Linked DNA regions of Homo sapiens. The protein of the gene in region 1 purifies or fractionates together with the protein of each later gene. This does not show direct contact. Each region holds a gene or a part of one and is shown in the gene's direction. Other genes may lie near its edges.

Evidence for each region.
Region 2: the proteins of VPS13C (region 1) and ANKRD22 purify together in Homo sapiens (co-immunoprecipitation; one large-scale study listed by IntAct). This does not show direct contact.

What each region holds. Positions count from the first base shown.
Region 1 is NC_000015.10:62,050,346-62,054,170, reverse strand, and holds part of VPS13C (intermembrane lipid transfer protein VPS13C), read left to right. Parts: intron 1-3,825. UniProt on the Homo sapiens protein: Mediates the transfer of lipids between membranes at organelle contact sites. Necessary for proper mitochondrial function and maintenance of mitochondrial transmembrane potential.
Region 2 is NC_000010.11:88,824,192-88,828,016, reverse strand, and holds part of ANKRD22 (ankyrin repeat domain-containing protein 22), read left to right. Parts: intron 1-1,901; coding exon 1,902-1,979; intron 1,980-3,825.

The sequences.
Region 1 (3,825 bases):
AGGATATAATTGTTTTAAGAGTAACATATATTTGAAAAGGTATGTTGAAATGCCTCATCTTTTGCAATATGATTTGAGTAGTATTGTTGCAATGTAGAACCTTTGTCAATTTGATTTTTCAAAATGATTTACTGTGGAGAGTCAGCAGGAAAATCCTCCAGTACTCGGAACTCTGTTGTTCTTAATTCCACTGGACAGGTGGAATCAACATAGGAACTGTGATGTGTTAGATACAAGGGTGACTCTGGTGACCAGGAATAGAAGCCAAGTGCAATGCCCTCAGAATCTGTGGCCCTGCAAACCAGACTGAACCCGTGCTGTTTATCCCACTCCTGACAGTTTATCCCACTCTTGACACTTCCCCTTGAGCTGCCAGATATTGTTGGAGCAGTGCAGCATAAGAAAGGAGAATGAACACTGGACTGGGAATGAGCAAACCTCTTTAATCTTATTCCATCTCTGATTCTGTCTAGTTGTGTGGCTTTTGGCATGTCTCTGACAAGTGACCATTGGTTGCTTATCTGTAAGTGGAAAGGTTAGACAAGGTCATCTCTTCTGTCTTTAAACTTCTGTGATTTGAGCAAGGCAAGAACAACGTGAGATCCTTCATTGGATGAGTGGTACTGCCACTTCCTCCGCATTCATAGAGAGAAAAGGTAGTTAAATAATGTATCTTTATCTTTCCTTTTTGCTCTTCACCCGATATTGGTGAGTAAAGAGCCACAGTCAATGACAGTGACAAGATAAATGAAGTTCCAGGCTCATGCTGATATTTGTGGGTCCAAGTGTAATATACTGTAATATATTGTCTTAACAGGTACCTGTAGGGCAGCTTGAGAATGAAAGAAAAAGCAGCTCTTTTTGCTTTTTTTGGCTTTGACACATAAAAGATGTCAGTATCTAGGTATTTCTAAACCTGTAGAGGGATTTTCTTTAGTCTTTTCCTCCCAGCCAGCACTTGGTGTAGTGGAGGCCACATTTCTCATTAGCTTGTCCTATGGCATATAAAAGTAAACAATAATGAAAAGGTCATTAGTGTAATACATATTTAGGCTCAGTTACTACCAGTTAAAGCGGTGCTTAAAAATTTAAATTTAAGCACCTGTTCACATATTTAAGTAGCATTACTAATTAAAAATTAACTCCTTTTCTAGAACTAAAACTGAGAATTGGTATTTTGGTAACCATTCTGCTAGGAAGCTCTACCACATTACTCAATATTATGGGATCCCTGAAGTGAACTGAAAGGGAGAAAGTTCAGTGGTGATGTTGCAGCTTTCTACCTTCCTTTGTCAAAACTTCCTGTTTCAGTAGGGAAATGGGAAGAGTGAGAGAGTTGTTTCCTTTCTCTTTCCTGTCTTCCTCTCTGAAGACAAAGTCACTGTGAACTCATTAAAAGGAGTCTAGATTGGTTAATTTGGGTTGACTAGCTAGATTCATTTGAAATGAATAGCTATAATATTTTCTTTGGTATTCTTTTTTTTTTTTTTTTTTTTTTGAGACGGAGTCTTGCTTTGTCGCCCAGGCTGGAGTGCAGTGGCACAATCTCGGCTCACTGCAAGCTCTGCCTCCTGGGTTCACGCCATTCTCCTGCCTCAGCCTCCACAGTAGCTAGGACTACAGGCACCCGCCACCACGCCTGGCTAATTTTTTTGTATTTTTTAGTAGAGACGGGGTTTCACCGTATCAGGATGGTCTTGATCTCCTGACCTTGTGATCCACCTGCCTCAGCCTTCCAAAGTGCTGGGATTACAGGCGTGAGTCACCGCACCAGGCCTGGTATTCTTTACTAAAACATAAATCATTAAAATAATTTGATTCATGCTTTGCTTTAAAAAACTGTTCAGTCATCTACTTTAGCTCACCTCCCTGGAAAATGAATTGTGTCAGAACATTCAGATATGCTTTCAACTAAATAATGTTTATGTTATAGATACATAAACAAAATCTTAAAAAATAAATACAAAGCATTCTTTATTTCACTATTCTTTATATGCAAAGCTAGTTTCATGGATTATGGCATGGCATTTTTGTTTGTTGGATGGTTTTTGTGTTTAATCACAGTTTTGGATTAACCTCTATGTTTTATATTAAGAAAGTTGACCTAGGAGTTGGGAGACATAGATTCTATTCTTAGTACTGCCACAAAAAAATTGTATAACCTTGGATAAACTACCAGATCTCTTTAGACTTTAATTTCTTCATGTATAAAGTGAGAGGGGCTTAGATTTGAAAATCTTTATGGTCCCAAATAGTTCTAAATCATAACTTGTGAATTTCTGTCTTTTGAGGAAAAAAATAGATTTTTAAAAAGTACTAAAATGACCATTTTGTAATACCATCTCCTGCATCTGTTTTTCCCTGTGGCACTACGTTTTCTTCTGGTTATGCTCTGAACATAACCCCCTTGACTCTATCCTACCGTTCTGCCTGTGCCCTTGTTATACTAATTTTAGTTATCCTTTTTGTTTTGGATTTTTTTACGTCTCTTTGCAAATACAGAGACCAAAAGTGGAACCGACAACCACGCTGGCCTGTGAATGCTGAGTCTGATTCTTTTATGGCATTTTTGTTGTCCAGGGAGGTCGAATTACCTTCTGAATTAAAATCCTATACGCTTTATGCTCTGCTATTCGGGAGAACAGTGTTATTCTGAAGATAGCATTGAGTTTTATAAGATTTGAGCCTTGAGACTGCCACTTACTATTAGGTTGCCATAGGATTCTTGGGCTAGTCATTTAACCTCTCTAAGCCTCAGCTTCTATTGCTTAATGTATACAACCTGTTTCTTGCCCAGGAGGCTGTGAGGATTGAGTAATGTTATACATCTGAAAGTGTTTTCTAAAATATAAAGATTTATGACCTTATTGTAGTTGGTTCCACCCCAGTACAATATGCATTCTGAAGTCAGTATTTATCGAGTACCTACTCTGAGGAGAATCAGTAAGAAGTTTATAATCAGACTGGGGATTTATATAAAGTTAAGTGTTACGCACCATAAGAAAGCTATAGCCTAAATTTCTGCAAAAGTTTAGAGAGATTATTTCTGGTTGGAGGTACTTAACAATAGGACTATATTTCTTACATTTATTTTGTAGGCCATTATGTATTTAAAAAGCCATTCTTGGACTTAGGCAGGCTTTTCCTTATTGTGCTAGTACCATTTGATTTTTATTCATAAATACACTAGCTTGGTTGTTTTCTATAACTAGCAACTATTTCTACTTTTTTTTTTTTGCGATGACTCCAACTCTTCATGTCATTTGCTAATTTACTTCCATTTTCATCTTCTGGTTCACTGTTGAAGAATACTAAATTTTGATCCAGTTTTGATCCAGGATTTACTTTTTTTTTTTTTTTTTTTTGAGACTGGGTCTTGCTCTGGCTGTCACTGAGGCTGGAGTGCAGTGGCATGATCCTGGCTCACTGCAACCTCTGCCCTTCTGGTTCGAGTGATTCTTCTGCCTCAGAATCCTGAGTATCTGAGATGACAGGCACCTGCCACCATGCCTGGCTAATTTTTTTGTATTTTTTAGGTAGAGACAGGGTTTCGCCATGTTGGCAAGGCTGGTCTCCAACTGCTGGGCTCAAGTGATCCAATCGCCTTGGTCTCCCAAAGTGTTGGGATTACAGGCATGAGCCACTCACTGCACCTGGCCCTTTTAGTATATTTCTTAAAATATCTTTCAAGATTGGCTTTGAAACTATGGTGACTTTCTAGCAGTGTATGCACATCCAAAATATATGTAGTTTATTAATGAGAATCATATGGGGTCTCTTCTGAAGCACAGACTACTTACTGTGTATATTGTCTACCCTCCTCCC
Region 2 (3,825 bases), on another chromosome or scaffold:
AAGAAAGATGTAGTTGGTATAGAGATGCAGTCATATGAGGAGTAGAAGATGAAGCTTGAGATGGTTTTTGGTTTTTTTTCCCAATAGGGTAACAGATCTGCACTGACTTACTCACTTTTATCCATCTAGTTTCCTTTGTGCCCAGTTCCACTTCTCAGACATGACTCAAGAGATGCATAATTTACTTTAATTAAATGACCAAGCTCCCTCCTTGTTGTAGCTCATAAACTGTGAATATTGGTTACACCTGTTAACATCAGCCGCAGAACAAGTCTGCCCGTCAAAAATGTTATTATTTCATTGGGTATTTAAATGCCACAGAATTTGAGGAACTATAATTAAACATGACAATGTTGATTTTTATATTTGGATTTATAGGAGAGAGAAAAGAACTTTAATTCACTAATAAAAATATAATCTGCTCATATCCTCGAAGAATTCTTTAAAAATTCATTATGTATTTAGCACATAGCATTTAAATACATGTATTTTGGGGGCAGGGAGAATCTGTTATTTATTTACAAACATTTTTAGAGATTCTAAAGGTAAAAATTACAACTGTGATTAGAAGGCTCATTCAGAATTTATTGACACACAACTCTGCTTTCTAAGATGGTTCAATGTTTAGAGGCTGGAGGACTGGGCAAAAATAGTAATCGTAATGAATAGCTCAACTCTAGTTTCATGCACGTGCAATTTATTAATGGGGCCTAAAGTTGTAAATTTGTGATGAATTAACAAATAAGTGACATGAGAGGAAATGATAGGGGAGGAGAGAGGAAAGCATTGGGTTATTTCAGAGAAAAGTAGGCAGAGAAAGGCAGTTTAGGAGGTGACACAAGAGGGAAGCCTAAGGAGAGAGAACTGGATGGAGCTTCCCAGGTGATGACAGGGTTGAACTCCAGGGCTATACCCAGCTGAGCAGGGAGAGCTTTGCCTCTTCAGGAGACTGGAAGTTGGGGAAGACTCCAACAGGCTTGTGGTCAGAAGCTCAGGAGACTGGGAAGGAAAAGTGAATTTCTGAGGAGTCCTAGTTCATTTCATTAATTTGTTCAATTCTTTAACGTATGTTTATTATGGACCTACTATGTGCCAGACGCTGTGCTAGCTGTTAGGGACACAATGATGAACAAAATAGGCATAGTTTTTTACCCCATGAGAGTTAGAGGGTGGTGGGGAGAGTCATTAATCAAATGGCACAAACACATGTAAAATTACCATAAAGCGGGTGATACAGAAAGGCGACTGGTGTTAGGATAGCTAAAAAAGAGGGATTTCACCTGGTCAGGTGGGTCAGGGAAAGCTTCTTAGAGAAAGAGGGACTTGGGCTGATGAATGAAAGGTGAATATGCCAGGCAAAGAAGAGAGGGAGGAGGCTTCTAGGCAGAAGGAACTTCCTGTGCAATGATTCTCTGAGAATGAAAGATTAACAAAGGCCAATGTAAGTAGAACAGAGTGAGCCAGGAGGCGCAGAGTGAGAGAGAGGCCAGGGCAGGGCCATACGTGGAGCCAAAACATACGGGGCTTTGTAGGTCATGCTGAAGAGTTTACTTTTGTCCTCAGAGCAATGGGAAGTAATTGCACAGCTTTGAGCCAGGAAGGGAAAGACAGGTACTAGGCCCCATCCTCAGTGGAATTAGGTAGGTTTGGGGTGGGACCTGAGAAGTACATTTCTAAGGTTCTTAGGTGTCAGTGCCGCTACTTCAGGACCACAGTCTGAGAACCTGGCTTTAATTAATTGATATTAGAGTGAGTGAGAAGCTGGGGGAAATTTTAGGAAGGGTGCATGCATGCATAGGAGTGTTGGGATTAAAATGAAGCCTATTGATTAAATAGTCTCAGGCATAAATTGGAGAAACTATTTGTAAATAAGCCTTTCTTATAATTACCATTTGTAATAGGTATCAAAGACAAAGCAGAATGAGGCTCTTGTACGAATGCTACTTGATGCTGGCGTCGAAGTTAATGCTACAGATTGTGTAAGTTTATACTTTTAGCCATTTTGAAAAAATATTCAAAATGGTATTTGTAGGTAGCGTATTTGTCATCTGTACAGTTGCTTTATTTTCCTAGACAATTTTACATTTAGTTTTCTTTTATTTTCTCCTTTTTTTTCCCACTGACAGGCAACCTTGAGGTTATTTATATTCTGCTGAACTCATGGGAATAATACCTCTATTGATTATAAAGCATTTTTAAAATAATTGGCTTTAATGTTGTTGAGACGTTAAGGAAAACTAAGGCTCCGATAACAAAATACCAGCCATAATAGTTAAGAAGCTGGAGTGAGAATGCCCATGAGTAAACTCTGGGCTTGCCACTTTTTACTTCTATGAGTTTGAGCAAGTTGTAAACTTATTTTACTTTCAGTGTCCTCATCGGTAAAATGGGGATATGGATAATACTTATCTCATTGGGCTTGTTCATGTAAAGCACTTAGCACATGCTCAGAATGTAGTAAGTGCTCATTGAATGGCAACAGCTGCCACTGCAGCCAAAATCCCAACCCACTGATGAGAGGCCCCGTGTGCAAACTACAGATAAATAAGACAAAGGTCAAAGAAAAATCCCACTGATGGTAAGAGCAGTGATAACAACAGTAGCAGCATCCGCTCACTTCTTCCTGTTTATGAGCATAAGGTGTTGTTTTCACTTTCACCTCTGTGCTCTTGCACTCATCTTTCTTTCTCAATGATCACAGAAAGACAAAAGTTTATTTCTATGGTGTTTTGCTTATGGTGATTGAATAAAATTTTGGATTCCCAGTTCCTTATTGAAAAAGTAGGCAAGTGGAAATTTGATTCCAAAATACTAACATTCTATTTGTGATGCCTAACATATTTTACGTGTGTGCACATCTGTGTGTATTACCATTGTTTTATGATAGAGACCATGGCCCCATTCCTGTTTCTATCAATTATTTACATCATTTCGGTTTTGCCTATGCTGGTATCATGTTTAAATGCAGGCAGTTGTGTGTGTGTGTGTGTGTGTGTGTGTGTGTGAGAGAGAGAGAGAGAGAGAGAGAGAGCAAAAGAAAATAACTTTATGAAATTTATATTCCCTTTTATTTCAAATAGAACTTTTGGATAAATTTGTATTGACAGTTACTGTGCATTACCATTTCTTTAGATAGCTTTGAAATATATTAAGTAAGAGATTATTAAAGATGAAGTTAAAAGTTTGTTGAAGGTTTTTCTTGGTCTTTTCATTTAAATTCAATAGATTTAATATTCCTGCCTGTGACCAAAATTTCTCTAGGATATTTTCTCAGCAATTTATGTGTATTTCTCTCTCTAGATAGAGATATTGCATTCCTTCAGCTAGGCACAGTGACACTAGCCTGTAGTCCCAGCTACTTGGAAGGCTGAGATGGGAGGATCCCTTGAACTCAGGAGTTTGAGACACATGCAGGTACACACACAGACACCACTTCTAATACCAAAATTTTTTCAAAAACTATCTGAGTATTAAAATCTACTTTCTAGGTAAGACAGTGTTTTGTATTTTTGGATAATTAGACTCTATTTCACATGACAAAATTCAGAGCCAGAACTTCCATTTGTCATGCCACCACTTAATAAAAATAAATAATTGCAACATGATCTCCTATAATTTTAGAGGTGTTTCTAGGGAATGGGATCCAGAGCTAAACCTGTCTTGATAGCCAAAGGTACTATTTCTTCACTCACCAGCACCATGGTTGCTTGGCTACTTTTCCAAAGGCCAAATTTTGGACACTAATGCCCTAGCTATAATTTTTTTGACCTGTAGTGTTTTAAATTAGTACCAACAGAGTAGATGCACTAGCTTATAACACATAAT